Linked DNA regions of Homo sapiens: region 1 is linked to region 2. The links come from fine-mapping of genetic effects on gene expression. A gene starts in region 2. The other region holds a variant in brackets. All regions are shown on one strand. Distances are between the middles of the regions. Region 1 overlaps FBXW5 (F-box and WD repeat domain containing 5). Region 2 holds the start of EDF1 (endothelial differentiation related factor 1).

The links. PIP is the estimated chance that this variant, and not a neighbour inherited with it, causes the effect.
Region 1: its variant is fine-mapped to the expression of EDF1 in whole blood (INTERVAL, PIP 0.96).

What each region holds. Positions count from the first base shown.
Region 1 is chr9:136,933,377-136,941,704 of GRCh38, reverse strand. FBXW5 (F-box and WD repeat domain containing 5) reads left to right here. Exons shown (of 9, transcript NM_018998.4): 7 at 21-168; 8 at 242-454; 9 at 534-1,270. The coding sequence ends at 777. Among named protein-coding and RNA genes, the nearest start is that of FBXW5, 7.2 kb to the left of the region's middle. RefSeq lists enhancers at 3,035-3,647, 3,648-4,261. The variant C/T (reference allele first, on the strand shown) is at 4,294.
Region 2 is chr9:136,863,204-136,871,529 of GRCh38, reverse strand. It overlaps EDF1 (endothelial differentiation related factor 1), which reads left to right and starts at 5,222. Exons shown (of 5, transcript NM_003792.4): 1 at 5,222-5,349; 2 at 7,659-7,710; 3 at 8,082-8,242. The coding sequence starts at 5,272. RefSeq lists silencers at 4,921-5,230, 5,331-5,520.

The DNA.
Region 1 (8,328 bases), 70 kb before region 2:
CACCGTAGCCCTCCCTGCAGGCATCAAGCAGATCCTGCCACACCAGATGACCACGGCAGGGCCCGTGCTGGGTGAGGGCCGGGGCTCCGATGCCTTCTTCGACGCGCTGGACCACGTCATAGACATACACGGACACATCATCGGCATGGGCCTGTCGCCCGACAACAGGTGGGCCTCTTGCCAGTGTCCCAGGCGGGGTGCCCGCAGGCGGCCCACACCTAGCACAGTGCCCCTCGCCCAGGTACCTGTACGTGAACAGCCGCGCCTGGCCCAACGGTGCGGTGGTGGCCGACCCCATGCAGCCGCCACCAATCGCGGAGGAGATTGACCTGCTGGTGTTCGACCTCAAGACCATGCGGGAGGTGAGGCGGGCTCTGCGTGCGCACCGCGCCTACACGCCCAACGACGAGTGCTTCTTCATCTTCCTGGACGTCAGCAGGGACTTCGTGGCCAGGTGCAGGGCGCGGCGTGGTGCAGGGCGGGTGTGGGCAGCAGCGGGCGGGCGGCCGGCTCACCCAGGCGCTGTTCTGCAGCGGGGCGGAGGACCGGCACGGCTACATCTGGGACCGCCACTACAACATCTGTCTGGCCAGGCTGCGGCACGAGGATGTGGTCAACTCAGTGGTCTTCAGTCCCCAGGAGCAGGAGCTGCTGCTCACGGCCAGCGACGACGCCACCATCAAAGCCTGGCGCTCCCCACGCACCATGCGCGTCCTCCAGGCACCTCGCCCACGGCCTCGCACCTTCTTCTCCTGGCTTGCCAGCCAGAGGCGCTGAGGTGTGCTGGGTGCACTGGAGCCACCGGGACCCCTTGAGGACATCGCCAGGCTCTGTGGCTTTTTCCCGAGCGGGAGAGGTGGAGATGCTTATAGCAGTTACGCCTTAGGAAGGGGACAACCAGGCCCCGCCACACGCTCACACACAAACCTGCTCACGCAGCTGTGATGCTTGGCACGGGGTGGCCAGTGCAGATGGAGCCCAAGGCCCCCTCGGCCTCCTGGGCAACTTGGGGTACACAGGATACTGGGGGTGCCGCTCCTCACTCAACCCCAGGCTAGGGGTACACCTGACCCAGCTGGCCTCGGCCCGGGGCACCTTCGGCTGGTCCTGTGGGGCCCTGGACGGTGGCCCAGTGGTGGCAGGGGCTGCTCCTGGCTGTGGTTGTGCGCCCGGGGCTTGGGAGCGGCCGGTCACGCTGCTGTGGGCCCGAGTGTGTTGCATGTCCACGCACCACCCGTTCAGGGCCCTGAATAAACAGTTGGCAACAGCACATTGTTGTCCAGTCTCTGTCTGCAGGGAGGGAGACTGTGGGCACTGCTGGCACAGTGGAGTGGACCTCATGGTCACTGCTGACGGGTGACGCTGTTATTGCTGGCACAGTGGTCCTACTGGAGTGAATGTTGCAGTCACTGCTGACAGGTGACATGTGCGTCTGAGGTCATGTGCTGGTGCCAGACTTTGTCACACTGCCCTGTCCTCCATGACCTCCAGGGAGATGCCTGGCACATGTGCCGGGGCTGGCAGCATGCAGGGCCTGCCGTCTGGGTCCAGGGTCAGTAGGCCACGTCACTCCCAGTGCCAGGGCAGCCCCCCCAGTCAGTCCCGTCCTTGAGGGAGTTCCTCAGCTGCTGGGTCCAGAGTCGGCAGGCTGCGTCGCTCCCAGTGCCAGGGCAGCCCCCACAGTCAGTCCCATCCTTAAGGGAGTTCCTCGGCTGCTGGGTCCAGAGTTGGCAGGCTGCGTCACTCCCAGTGCCAGGGCGGCCCCCCACAGTCCCGTCCTTGAGGGAGTCCCTCGGCTGCTGGGTCCAGAGTCGGCAGGCCGTGTCGCTCCCAGTGCCAGGGCGGTCTCCACAGTCAGTTCAGGCCGGCGAGGATGGGACCAGGGGCCCAGAAGTGGGAGCAGAGGTGGAGCTCCAGCTGGACCCCACAGGCTTTGTTGGAACTGCACCGGGAGCTCGGGGGCCCGGGGCGATGGTGGTGACAAGGAAGATGGCAGGAGTAGAGCCTGGCACTCGGGTCAGCTGCCCATTATAGGAAGCACACAGAGCTTGTGGCTCCAAACATGGCAGCAAGCAACCCCGTACAGAGAAAGGACGCAGAGGAGACGAGTGAGTGTCGAGGTGATGGTTCCCCTGAGCCACGTGGGCCGCAGGTAGAGACCCTGGGGCTGAGCTCGAGCACCGACGGGATCAGGGACAGCACCACCGAGAGAGGCTGCGCCACCCAGAGGGACGGAGCCTCTGCCCTGCCAACTCCTGGTCTCCAGCTGGGAAGCCCTGGGGACCACTGCAGTTCATAATAAAACCCCCAACGTGGGCGAGAACAAGGAAAGGAAGGAAGACACACCAAAGACCCCCAGACAAGATAAGCTGCCCTGAGACTAACACCCTCAGAAGGGAGCTGACAGATTCTGTAAATGCAAGCACACCACGGGCAGGCTCCAAAGAATTGAGCAATTTCCTGAAAAGGACTTACCTACGTTCACATTCAAGGAGACTAACAAAAACATTCCTATGCACCATAAAACAAAAGTGGGGACAGAAATCAAGAGGACTTGGACATTTCAAAATAAAAAGGGAGCCAATTAGACACTGGAAAATGACAGGGCGAGTGACTGCATCAAAAGCTTGATACGTAGGCCGGGCGCGGTGGCTCACGCCTGTAATCCCAGTACTTTGGGAGGCCGAGGTGGGCAGATCACGAGGTCAGATCGAGGCCATCCTGGCTAACAAGGTGAAACCCTGTCTCTACTAAAAATACAAAAAATTAGCCGGGCGCGGTGGCGGACGCCTGTAGTCTCAGCTACTCGAGAGACTGAGGTAGGAGAATGGCGTGAACCTGGGAGGCGGAGCTTGCAGTGAGCCGAGATTGCACCACTGCACTCCAGCCTGGGCGACAGAACAAGACTCTGTCTCAAAAAAGGAAAAGAAAAAAAAAAAAATCTTGATATGTGGAAAGTGCTGGACCAGACAGACTCGACGAGAGGACCAGGCAGCAGAAGATGGCACAGAGGAGACGAAAGAAACACAGCCCTGGGAGGGGAATGGAGCGGCATGCATGCCCCCACCCCATCTACGGGGCAGGGGTGGAGACCCAGTGTTTAAAGAGAAAGTGACTGAATTAGCAAAAGAACAGAAGTCCTCAGAAAACATATGCTGAGGTCAGGCCGGGCGTGGTGGTTCATGCCTGTAATCCTAGCACTTTGGGAGGCCGAGGCGGATCACTTGAGGTCAGGAGATCAAGACCAGCCTGGCCAACACGGTGAAACCCCTTTTGTACTTAAAAAAAAAAAAAAAAAAAATTAGCCGAGCGTGGTGGCACACACCTCTAATCCCAGCTACTCAGGGGACTGAGGCAGGAGAATTCATTGAACCCGGGAATGAGCTGAGATTGCGCCACTGCACTCCAGCCTGGGCGACAGAGTGAACTCTGTGAAACTGCAGCTATGAAACTTGTGCACGGGGCCTGGAGCAGCTGCCAGAGAGCTGGGTCAGGGAGCAGCAGCAAGATCCCAAGTTTCGCAGAACTGGTGCTTGACCTAACATCCATGACCTGAACTCCACGCAGCCGCAACACCGGACGTGAGTGCTGGGGCCAGGCAGAAAGCCCAGAGCAGCCCTAAGGGCCAGGGAAAGGAACCCACGCCGATGCGCAGGGTCAGTGAGGCAATGCCCTGGGTTTACCCTCTTCTCCATTCTTTTGTGACCCTGATGGCAGTGGGAGTGGTGGCTACAGGAACCCATCAGAGCCAAACTTGGGGCCAGAAAGTCCCTCACAGCTCAGTGCGGCTGTATTGAGGGTGGGACCACCCCCATTAGCTTTCCTCCCCTGTCCTCCTGCCACATAGACTCCAACGCGGCCCAGTCAAGGGCATGTCACTGTCTGAACTGACAGTGAGTGAGCCCAGCAACCAAACCCAGCGTGGGGAGCTTGGGAAGCACCCACATGGGGTGGCTGTGGATGCCGGGCTCAGCTCACATGCAGACACATGGGTCTAATGATCACACCATGGACGTGGGGAACTGCAGACCAGCCTTGGGTCCCAGACCAAAGACCAGCAGCTCTGAAGACAGGAGTCCACGCAGGTGGGAGCAGTGTGGGCCCAACCCTCACAGGACCAAGTGCCTGCTAACCAAAGACACCCACGCAGGTGGGAGCAGTGTGGGCCTGACCATCCCAGGACCAAGTGCCTGCTAACCAAAGATACTCATGCGGGCAGGAACAATGTGGGCCCAACCTTCACAGGACCAAGTGCCTGCTAACCAGACTTCAACATTTCCCACAGGATTCAAA[C/T]ATGACCCAGATCTCATAAAGTCATATTCAAAATGTCTAGAATATAGCCCAAAATTGCTTGACACACGAAGAACCACAACATTTCAACTTGCAGCTGGGCACCGCGGCTCACACCTGAAACCCTAGTTCCCTGGGAGGCCACGGCTGCAGGGAGCAATCACCGGGCCGCTGCACTCCAGCCTGGGTGACAGAGACCCTGTTTCTAAAAAATAAAAATAAAAAATAAAAGATTCAATGTGCAAAGGTAAAGACCCATAAATTCTATTTCCCAAAAACAATTAGTAGCTTTTTTAAAAAACCACACAACAAATTTTTATTATTTTTTAATTTTTGTAGAAATGAGGTCTATGTTGCCCAGGCTGGTCTCAAACTCCTGGGCTCAAGTAATCTTCCAGCCTCGGCCTCCAGAAGTGCTGGGATTACAGGCGTGAGCCACCGCACCGGCCAACACAATTCTTAAAAGGCACTGGGATTCCTCTGCTTCAAGATCATTACTAGGCTAGAAAAATAAAGCTTGTTCTACCAGAAATCACAAGTAAGAACTGAGTGTTCTCCAAGGCAGAAATTGTAGAGTCTAGTGCCATTTCAGGCAACGATGACTAAGCTCTGAACCCCAACATCCACAGCTGCCCATCAGAACACTTAAACCAGCTCGGAACAGACCAGCACAATTCGGCTTCATCAGACAAGGCCACCGTGCTCTTCTAAGATGCTAATAACCCCAAACAGGAGGTGCTGAAACCAAATGAAAGACAGTCTTTGAGGCTAGCTGCCACACCAACTGTGAGTTCCTTGTTATGTCCCCCTTCTATAACATTAATCAAGGAAATATTTTACTGCAAAGAGTATTTTATATGCCACTAGCCATGAATTTTTGTCATTAGTTACTACATAAATGTCACCTAGTGCCTGCCATTATCCACATGGCACAACCATTTTATGTCTACAATTCACTTCTGTATTTACAAACAGAATCTTTGTGATTCCCATAAGTACATTAGCAAAGGTTTAACATCGAGATGCAATCTAACATCCATAACCTCCATTGTTTTGCAGACAGCAATGTAGGAGAGAGAGATTTTTTTTTTTTTTTTTTTTTTTTGAGACAGAGTCTTGCTCTGTCGCCCAGGCTGGAGTGCAGTGGCGCGATCTCAGCTCACTGCAGGCTCTGCCTACCAGGTTCATGCCATTCTCCTGCCCCAGCCTCCCGAGTAGCTGGGACTACAGGCGCCCGCCACCATGCCCGGCTAATTTTTTTGTATTATTTTAGTGGAGACGGGGTTTCACTGTGTTGGCCAGGATGGTCTCGATCTCCTGACCTCGTGATCCGCCCGCCTCGGCCTCCCAAAGTGCTGGGATTCCAGGCATGAGCCACCATGCCCGGCTGAGGATTGTGTTCTTTAAAACAGTTTTATTTGGATTTACAAAATCTGAACACCTTACAATCATTGCAGATGAACATTATGCCATGGCCCCAGGTAGATGCACCCTGAACAAAAACTCACACTTCCCGATATGCAGGGGGAACCTGCAAGTCCTCACCAACCAAACGCCAGGCTTGGGAGGAAGTGACACAGACACAGATGCTGAAATTATCTGACAAGGGCTTTAAAGTAGCTACTATAAATATGCCAGAGCAAGCAATCACAAACATTTTGCAATGGATGTAAAAATATGAAAGTCTCAGCAAAAAAATAGAAGATGTAAAAAGGACCATTCATACCAAGATTAGGTATCTATAAAAAGAGAAGGAAAAAGGCTGGGCACGGTGGCTTACGCCTGTAACCCTAACATTTTGGGAGGCCAAGGCGGGCAGATCACCTGAGGTCAGGAGTTCAAGACCAGCCTGGCCAACATGGTAAAATCCCGTCTCTACTAAAAATACAAAAAAAAAAAGGCCGTGTGCGGTGGCTCACGCTTGTTAATCCCAGCACTTTGGGAGGCCGAGGTGGGCAGATCACAAGGTCAGGAGGATCGAGACCAAGTTCCAGCTACTCGGGAGGCTGAGGCAGAATGGCGTGAACCCAGGAGGCGGAGCTTGCAGTGAGCCGAGATCGCGCCACTGCACTCCAGCCTGGGCGACAGAGCAAGACTCCATCTCAAAAAAAAAAAAAAAAAAAAAGACAGGTTCTCACTCTGTTGCCCAGCCTTGAGTCACCAGTACAGTCATGACTTACTGCAGCTTCGACCTTCAGGCTCAAGTGATCCTCCCACCTCAGCCTCTCAAGTAGCTGGGACCACAGGCATGCACCACCACACCCAGCTAATTTTTATATTTTTTGTAGAGATGGGGTTTTGCCATGTTGTCCAGGCTGGTTTTGAACTCCTAGGCTGAAGTGATCCGCCTGCCTCGGCTTCCGTAAGTGCTGGGATTACGGCGTGAGCCACCATACTGGGCTGCAGCCTCTTTTTAAGGGCACGAATCCCATCCACAAGTGTTGCACCCTCATGATCTAAAAAGTCCTGCCTCCAAGTACCATCACATTGGAGATTATGTTTCAACACAGGAAATTGGGTGGGGGGGGCACAAACATTGTCTTCTCTTAGTCTGTTTTTGCTGCTATAACCGAATACCTGAGACCAGATAATTTATAAGGAATAGAAATTTATTGGCTCACAGTTCTGGGGGCTGGGAAGTCCCAGAGTAAGGTGCCAGCGTCTGGTGCAATCCTTCTTGTTGTGTCACTGTGGAAGGTGGAAGGGCAAGAGAGGGCCAAGCTCATCTTATTATACCAGCACCAATTCCAGCCTATCTTCCCTCTGACCTAATCACCCTTTAAGGATCCCACCTCTTAACACTGTTACAATGACAATTAAATATTAACATGAGTTTGGGAGATAAAAACATTCAAACCGTAGCATTCCATCCCTGCCCCTACACCAATTCATGTTCTTTTCACATACAAAATATACTCATTCCATCCCAATGGCCCCATTCAAAAGTCCAAAGCCCAGAGTCTCGTCTAAATCAAACATGGGTGAGACTCAAGGCATGATTCATCCTGAGGCAACTTTCCCTCCACTATGAGCCTGTGAAATTAAACAAGTTACGTGCTTCCAAAATACAATGGTAGGGCAGGCATAGAACAGACATTTCCATTCCAAAGGGATAAATTATAAAGAGGAAAGGAATAACAGGCCTCAAAAGCATGTCCAAAGTCCAACAGGGAGAATACTACTAAATCCTAAGGCTTGAGAATCATCATCTTTGACTCCAAATCCTGCCTTCTGCACGCCGTGGGGTGCGGCTGGGTCCTCAGGCTCTTGGGAACCTCACCCCTAGAGCTTTGCTGGGCTCAGACCTCACACAACTCTCTTAGGTTGGAGTCTCGTGCCTTCAGCTCTCCCAGGCTGGCAATGAACACTAGAGGCTCTCCAGTTCTGGGGTCTCAGGGGTGGCCTTATCCCCAAGGCTCTACCACATATTGCCCTAGTGTGGGCTCTCTGCCATGGCTCTGGCCTGGAGACTTGTGACATCCTGTGTGACACCCAGTGGATGAAGCCATGTCCCCACAGCTCCTGCAAGGCTGCAGAATCGACACCACCAAGGCTTATGACTTGTACCTTCCCTGGGTCCACATGAGACAGGCTGGAGTGGCTTAGGGGGTCTGCACTGGAATGCAGACAGCCAAGACTTGGGGTGGCCCTGGCCAGCAGGCTCTAAGGTCCACACCCTACACCTCTCTTTTGACATATTTCCTTCCCAAAGGCCTTGGCACTCTGGGCCTGTGGTGGGAGGGGCAGCACCAGGAATCTGAAATGCCTCTGGGGCCATTTTCCCACTGTCCTGATGAGCAGCCTCTGGCTTCGTTCTGTCCATACTAAGTTGCTTGGCCACACACTTGGTCTGTTCTCCTAAAGACATCTTATTTACTCCCTAAATGGGCAGGCTGAAAATCCTTACGATCCCTATTCTTTCCTTGTTAATTATAAATTCCATCTTTAATTCATTTCTCTTCTCACATCTTACTCTCTGCAGTTAGAAGAAAACATGCCACACCCTGAGTATTTCTTCAGCCAGATATCCCAGTTCCT
Region 2 (8,326 bases):
AGAATTAATTGGCTGGGCTTGGTGGCTCACACCTGTAATCACAGCACTTTGGGAGGCTGAGGTGGTGGATTACCTGAGGTCAGGAGTTCGAGACCAGCCTGGCCGACATGGTGAAACACCATCTCTACTAAAAATACAAAATTTAGCCAGGTGTGGTGGCGTGCACCTGTAGTCCCAGCTACTCGGGAGGCTGAGGCAGGAGAATCGCTTGAACCCAGGAGGTGGAGGTTGTAGTGAGCTGACATTGTGCCAATGCACTCAAGCTTGGGCAACAGATGGAGTGAGACTCTGTCGCAAAAAAATAACGAATTTATCAGATTTACATTTACGTAATGTATTTATTTATTTATTTACGTATTTAGGGCACATTGGCATTGTGTGTACTAATATACTTATTTTTAACAGATTACCTAGATTACTTATGAAAACTGAGATATTGGCTGGGCACACCTGTAATCCCAGAACTTTGGGAGGCCTAATCAGGCAGATCATGAGGTCAAGAGTTCAAGACCATCCTGGGCAATATGGTGAAACCCCGTCTCTACTAACAATACAAAAATTAGCTGGGCTTGGTGGCATGTGCCTGTAGTCCTGGCTACTTGGGAGGCTGAGGCAGGAGAATTGCTTGAACCTGGGAGGCGGAGGTTGCAGTGAGACAAGATCGCGCCACCGCATTCCATCCCAGGCGACAGTGTGAGACCCCGTCTCAAAAACAGAAAAAAGAAGACATAGTGAGAGCGGAGTAAGCATGTCACTTAAACATGTGGAAGTGAACACCCAAAAGTACAAAGCAGCTGTGAAACTTGGAAGCAGTAACCTCTGGGGATTGGGAACATGGTGGGCAGAGGGACAGGGGGTGACCACTGATTTTTTAAAAATCCAAGCTGTCCTGTGAGACTTTTATTATTTATTTATTTACTGAGACAGGGTCTTACTGTTGTCCAGGCTGGAGTGCGATGGCATGATCATGGTTCACCATAGGCTTGACCTTCCAGGTTCAAGTGATCCTCCTACTGCAGCTTCCTGAGTAGCTGGGACCACAGGCACACATCACCACACCCAGCTAATTGTTTGTATGTTTTTGTAGAGACAGGGTTTTACCATGTTGCCCAGGCTGGTCTCGAACTCCTGGCCTTAAGCGATTTCCCACCTCGGCCTCCCAAAGTGCTGCATTGTGGGAGGCTGAGGTGGGAGGATCGCTTAAGCCTGGGAGGTTGGGCCTGCTGTGAGCTGTGATCACGCCACTGCATTCCAGCCTGGATGCCACAGTGAGACCTTGTCTCTAAATAAATAAATAGTAGGAAAATGTTTCCGACATGGTGAATGTGTGGTACTATATAGTCCTAAGAAGCTCAGTGGGCCAGATGTGGTGGCTCACGCCTGTAGTCCCAACACTTTGGGAGGCCGAGGCGGGCGGATCACCTGAGGTCAAAAGTTTGAGACCAGCCTGGCCAACATGATGAAACCCGTCTCTACTAAAAACACAAAAAATTAGTCAGGCGTGGTGGCAGGTGCCTGTAATCCCAGCTATTCAGGAGGCTGAGGCAGGAAAATCACTTGAACCTGGGAGGCAGAGGTTGCAGTGAGCCTAGATCATGTCACTGCACTCCAGTCTGGATGACAAGAGCGAAACTCCATCTCAAAAAAAAAAAAGAAAAGAAAATTAGCTGGGCATGAACCCAGGAGGTGGAGGTTGTAGCAAGCCAAGATCGTGCCACTGCACTCCAGCCTGGGTGACACAGCAAGATTCCATCTCAAAAAAAAATAAAATAAAAAAGCAGCTCAGTGAACCCAAGCAAGGTAAATACAAAGGAAAATATGCTTAGGCACATGCTAAGAAAACTGAAGATCAGGCTGGGGGTGTTGGAACATGCCTGTAATTCCAGTATTTTGGGAGGCTGAGGTGGGAGGATCACTTGAGCCCAGGAGGTTGAGGCTGCAGTGAGCCATGATTGTGCCACTGCACTCCAGCCTGGGCAACAGAGTGAGGCCCTGTCTCAAAAAAAAAAAAAAAAGAAAAAAAAAAGAAAAAGAAAAGAAAAAGAAAACTGAAGACAGGGATAGTCTTGAAAGAGCCAGAGGACATGCCACATTGTCACATAACCTGCTGGGGAACCAGGACACAAATGACTGATCACTGATTCTCACTGGCAAGGATGGAAGTTGGAAGACAATGGGATGACGTTTATACAATAGTGTATCCTTCAAACACAAGGGCAAAATAGAGACATTTTCAGTTAAATGAAAGATGAAACTACAGCAGATGGTACTAAAAGGACCGAAGAAAGGCTGGAGGGAAATTATGCCAGAGAGACACTAAGATCTGCAGATGGAAATGAAGAGACTTTTTTTCTCCAGAAGTCTTTGGAATTGTCTTTTCTCCATGCATGAAGCTAAATGGATAACTGGTAGACAGACTGGTGCAACATCTCCAGTGAGATACGAGAGGCTCACCAGACCCCCCAAAGCTGCTTCTTTGTATCAGCTGCTTTCCTCTGGGCCCGAAGTCGGAAGAATCCAGGAATAGGAGGGAGTGCAAACAAACGACCCCGGAGTGGGACGGACGGAGTGGGATGGAGTGGGACGGAGTGGGCAGTGAGGACAGCCTCACACAGACACCTGTATCCATCATGCCTTGGTGCAGGGAGTGCCAAGGACAGGGCACAAGTGACTTGTGGCATCAGGCCTGGACTCCCGATGGAGGGCCAGATGGGACAACGGCTGTCTTGGTGGACACCTGCAGAGGACAGCTAGATGTAGCTGTCCCCTCTCTCTCAGCCCAGGCTCACTACGGAGCTAGCTGAGCCCCACTTGCATGGGTCTCCCAGGCTCTGAAAAGGGCCTCCCAATGCGTTCATGAGATCAGGTGTTGGTTAAGTTTGTCATGTTAGGAGGCCTGAACTGCAGTGTTAACAAGGCTGCCTCTTTCCAGGCCAACTCCACCTTCATCACAATCTTCCTGGGGGCTGGTGGCACTGGAGTGACGATAAGCATTTTTGGCACACAACAAAGGGGGACTTGAGTGGAGATACATCCAGTCAGAGTTTATGGGATATTTTCTTTTTCTTTCTTTCTTTTTTTTGTTTTTCTGAGACAGCAGAGTCTTGCTCTGTCCCTAGGCTGGAGTGCAATGGTGCGGTGTCGTCGACTCACTGCAACCTCCGCCTCCCGGTTCAAGCAATTCTCCTGCCTCAGCCTCCTGAGTAGCTGGGACTACAGGCACGCACCACCATGCCCAGCTGATTTTTGTATTTTTAATAGAGACAGGGTTTCACCGTGTTGGCCAGGATGATCTCGATCTCTCAACCTCGTGATCCATCCGCCTCGGCCTTCCAAAGTGCTGGGATTACAGAAGTGAGCCACTGCGCCCGGCCACAAGAGATTATTTTCATTCAGTGGAAGCACATCCTTGCTGGCCGGCTGAGGCTGTTGAGTCCTTAGCCGAACGGAGCTTGGTGCTGGAAGTCGGCGGGAAACAGAGAAGCAAGGTTTGTATGGACGGAGCCATCAGTGTGTCCCCAAGGTTCTTCCAATCATCCGGTGTGAAAAACGGTAAGCAGAAGACTCAACTTCCCACTGCCTGGTTAGAATTACAGTTGTCTCCTCCGCGGAGTGCATTTGCTAATGCAGCATTTCCAATTTAATACAGCATTTATGTATGTTTTCTTTTTGGATGGAGACTGCATTTATCAGGTTCCTTGTTTGTGGAGCATCTATTCAAAGCCCGGAAGTCAATACTATGATTAGGGCCTGCGGTGGCTCAAGCCTGTAATCCCAGGCTTTGGGAGGCCGAGGCGGGAGGATCACGCGAGCTCAGGAGTTCCAGACCGACGAGCCAGGGCGGCACGGAGACCCCATCTCTACCCCACAAAATACAAAAATTAGCCAGGCGTGGGGGCCGCGCCTATAGTCCCATCGCTTGAGCGCAGGACGTCGAGGCTGCAGTGAGCTGAGATCTCAATGTTGTGCTCCAGCGTGGGCCACAGAGTGAGACCCTGTCTATAAAAATAAAAATCCTAAAAAAGTTGTTCAATGATAATGTATAATGACCTTTCTCATTATACAAAACGGCTGGAAAATAGGGTATTACAGAATTATTGTCATATAACATATACACTTTATACATTACAGAAAATAAACATCATGCAAAACCATTCATTTTTGCAACCGATGTTTTCACAGTTTTCCATTCTTTTTCTTTTTTTTTGAAACGCAGTTTCATTCTTGTTGCCCAGGCTGGAGTGCAATAGCGCGATCTCGGCTCACCGCAACCTCCGCCTCCCGGGTTCAACTGATTCTTCTGCCTCAGCCTCCCCGAGTAGCTGAGATTACAGGTGCCCGCCACCACGTCCGGCTAATTTTGTATTTTTAGTAGAGACGGGGTTTCTCCATGTTGGTCAGGCTGGTCTCGAACTCCCGACCTCAGGTGATACGCCCGCCTCGGCCTCCCAAAGTTCTGGGACTACAGGCGTGAACCACCGTGCCCGGCTTGCGTTCTTTTTCTTAAAGAGTCCCACCTGCGGATCACGAGATCAGGAGATCGAGACCATCCTGGCCCGTCTCTACTAAAAATAAAATAAAATAAAATAAATAAATTAGCCGGGCGTGGTGGCTGGCGCCTGTAGTCCCAGGTACTCGGGAGGCTGAGGCAGGAGAATGGCATGAACCCGGGAGACGGAGTGAGCCGAGATCGCGCCACGGCACCCAGCCTGGGCGATAGAGCAAGACTCCATCTCAAAAAATAAAAGTTAAAAAAAAAAAAGTGTCCCACCCCACGCTGCGTTTCGGGCCCCACGGCCCTGGTCCTCGAGCGCAGGTCCCAGCCGCGCAGGCGGCAAAACAAAGGGGGGCGGCCGCACGGCTAGAGCGGAGACCCCGCGCCCCCTCCGCCCGCGTGGCCCGGCCGGGGTGCGGGGCCCGGGGAGGCACGGGGGCTGCGCGTCGGGGCGCAGCCGCCGCCCGCGTGTGCTCGGAGGCCGCGGGGCCCGGGCTCCGGGGTCCTCCCGACCTGCAGCCCCAGCGGCTACCGCGCCTCGCCAGGCCAGGCCAGGCCCCGACGTCGCCTTCCCTACGTCGCCGGCGCCCGGCCACGACGTCCCTCAGACGAGCCGAACGCCGAATGGCCCCGAGCACGGGAAGTGCCCGCCCCCCGCGTGCAGCCAGCCAATGGGACGCCGAAAGCGGGGAGGTGCCGAGGGGACGTAGCGTCGCCGCGCCAGGTCTCTAGCAGCTGCCGCTGAGCCGCCGGACGGACGCTCGTCTTCGCCCGCCATGGCCGAGAGCGACTGGGACACGGTGACGGTGCTGCGCAAGAAGGGCCCTACGGCCGCCCAGGCCAAATCCAAGCAGGTGCTTTGCTGACTGAGGAGCGGCCGGGCCGGGCGGGGCGGACGCTGGGCCGGGGCCACGGACCGTGGGGCAGGGGGCTCGGGGAAGGGCAGGCGGGGCCTGGGACAGGGCGCAGGGGACGGGGACAAGGCTGGGGTGCCGGGGGCAGGACGGGGTTCGAAGGGCGGGGCGAATCGCAGGGGTAGGAGGACCGGGCCAGGACAGGGGTGGGAAGGTGGGGGGCGGACCCAGGAGGGGATGGACGGACCCAGGAGGCAGGGGGCGGGCGACTGGAGGAGGAGAGGAGCAGGGAACCGGACGGGGCAAGGGGCAGGCGATAGGGCCGGGACCAGTGCCAGGGTGGGGCGGGGAGGGGATAGGGGCAGGGACTGTTGGTGGGGACAGGTGTGAGGACAGAGGCAGGAGGTGGGGACGGGGACGGGGACAAGGCTGGGGGCCTTGTGTGAGGATAGGGGACAGAGAACCAGGGTGGGCACTGGGAACGGGGGCAGGGATGGAGATGGGGACAGGGCTTGGAAGAACAGGGTAGAGTGGGGTACAGGGCTTAGGACAGGGGTGGGGACTGGGGCAAGCAGCAGGAACCAGCGATGAAGGTGGGGAATTGGGGTTGGGATAGGGCTGGGGGCCATTGGACAGCAGTTGAGGGCCTGGGGCGGGAGACTGGGTGACGGGGCAGAGGTTAGTGACCTGAGTGGGAGCTGGGGACAGGGGGTAGGCTCCTCCCTGAGAGTTTTCTCTCTGCCTGGGACCTGCTTGGTTCTACTGGTCTCCGCTGGTCAGATACTGCCCAGGGAGCCTGCCTGGGTGCATCACAGGCTGTAGAGAGTGCCTGCTTCAGGGGACCCCATGAGCAGGTGGACCCTGTTGCACAGGTGGAAGATGGGCGTGCCCTGAACAGTACTTGTGGAAGGAGATTACCAATGTGGCTGATGGATCCGAGGGTCAGTTGTGAGTCTGATGTAATAGGGAGGACAGTTTAGTCACCGCCTCTGCCTCATTCGTACCCTCAGGTGGCCTAGGGCTGAAGCCTTTGAGGCCAGTTGGGCCAGGATGCGCTGGGGCTCTGGTGACAGGGATTCATTGGTCTGCCCTACCCTTACTGGTTGCACAGTCAAAACCAAATTCACTCTCCTTTTCTTTTAAAGGAAACTTAATGGCCACAAGCTAGGAGTCATGGGAATAATTGCGTGGCAGCATCTGTGAGCAGATCACACTTAGGATGCTCCACAAGTCACTCCTCTGAAGTGGTAGAAATGTTGGCCGGGCGCGGTGGCTCACGCCTGTAATCCCAGCACTCTGGGAGGCCAAGGCAGGTGGATCATGAGGTCAGGAGTTCAAGACCAGCCTGGCCAAGATGGTGAAACCCCGTCTCTACTAAAAATACAAAAAATTAGCCAGGCACGGTGGCAGGAGCCTGTAATCCCAGCTACTCGGGAGGCTGAGGCAGGAGAATTGCTTGAACTCGGAGGGCGAAGGTTGCAGTGAGCCGAGATCGTGTCACTGCATTCCAGCCTGGGCAACAGAGTGAGACTCTGTCTCAAAAAAAAAAAGTTAATAAATACATTATATTAATATTCAGTGACTGTAGATGAGATGGCATCACTGTTATTGGTGATGTTTCTGGAGAGCCTGCAGGCTTCCATGAGATGTGTCATCTCTGTGTTACTAGGAACCAGATTCAGGGAGGAAGGCCACACCAGGCCAGTATTTGGTGTTCCTTCCTACTTTTGCAGTAGAGTCCAGCAGAAAAGTAAATCTGTGCTAAATATGATTTCTCAAAAAGAATCCACTAACGCATACCAGCTATTCAGGAGGGAGGCTGAGGCCAGAGGCTCACTTGAGCCCAGGAGTTCCAGACCAGCCTGGGCAACATAGCAAGACCTCAACTCTAAAAAAAAAAAAAAAAAATCCCTAGTGTGTCTTTCTCAACAGCAAAGGAAGTGGTGTTCTCTTAGCAGTTAACTGTGACTTTCTTAGACATCTGATTGTAGAGGCTTTTGTATAATGAGTTTGGGGTTTTGTTGTGTTTTATTGTTTGTAGAGACAGGATCTTGCTGTGTTGCCCAGGCTGGTCTCGAACTCGTGGCCTCAAGTGATCCTGCTACTTCGGTTTCCCAAAGTGCTGGGATTACAGGCATAAGCCATGGTGCCTAGTTGAGCTTAGGTAACTGAACCCAGGACTGCATATCAGTCCTTGGGCACCACTAGTCCTTAGCAGTGTGCTAACTGGCTAACAGCAGGCCTGAATTGGTGTGTGCTGGATACTGTCAAAGCTAATTTTGATCCACTGATGTTTTCTAATTTTCTAGGCTATCTTAGCGGCACAGAGACGAGGAGAAGATGTGGAGACTTCCAAGAAATGTAGGTACTTGTGTTTCCGCTTGCAACATGAGGCTGTGCTGTGGGGTCCATGTGCTGGTGGGTGTGGTGTGTGCGGCGCCCCCGGGGACGTTGTCAGCTGAGTGCCTGCCTGCACCGGTGCTGGCCGGAGCCCTGGGAGGCAGCCATCTTCCCAGAGCAGCTCTGGTTGGCATGAGTACAGCTGCCTGTCCTCATAACTGAGAGAAAACTCTGGAAGTCCACGACCTGAGGTGTGTGAACTTGGGACAGCCTGGGTTCCCATGTCCCCTTGAGTTCAGGCAGCCTCTGGGGTCTGGTTACCGCTTTGAAATGGTTTTTCTTCAGGTTAATTCCAAATCCTCTCCTCTGCTTTTGCCTCACACCGACTCCAGGGGCTGCTGGCCAGAACAAACAACATTCTATTACCAAGAACACGGCCAAGCTGGACCGGGAGACAGAGGAGCTGCACCATGACAGGGTGACCCTGGAGGTGGGCAAGGTGATCCAGCAAGGTCGGCAGAGCAAGGGGCTTACGCAGAAGGACCTGGCCACGGTGAGGCTGCGCCGGGGCTCTCACTCCTGGGGTTGTGGGTTTGGGGAGGGGGATGGCCGGTGTTCAGATAGCACGGGGAGGGTG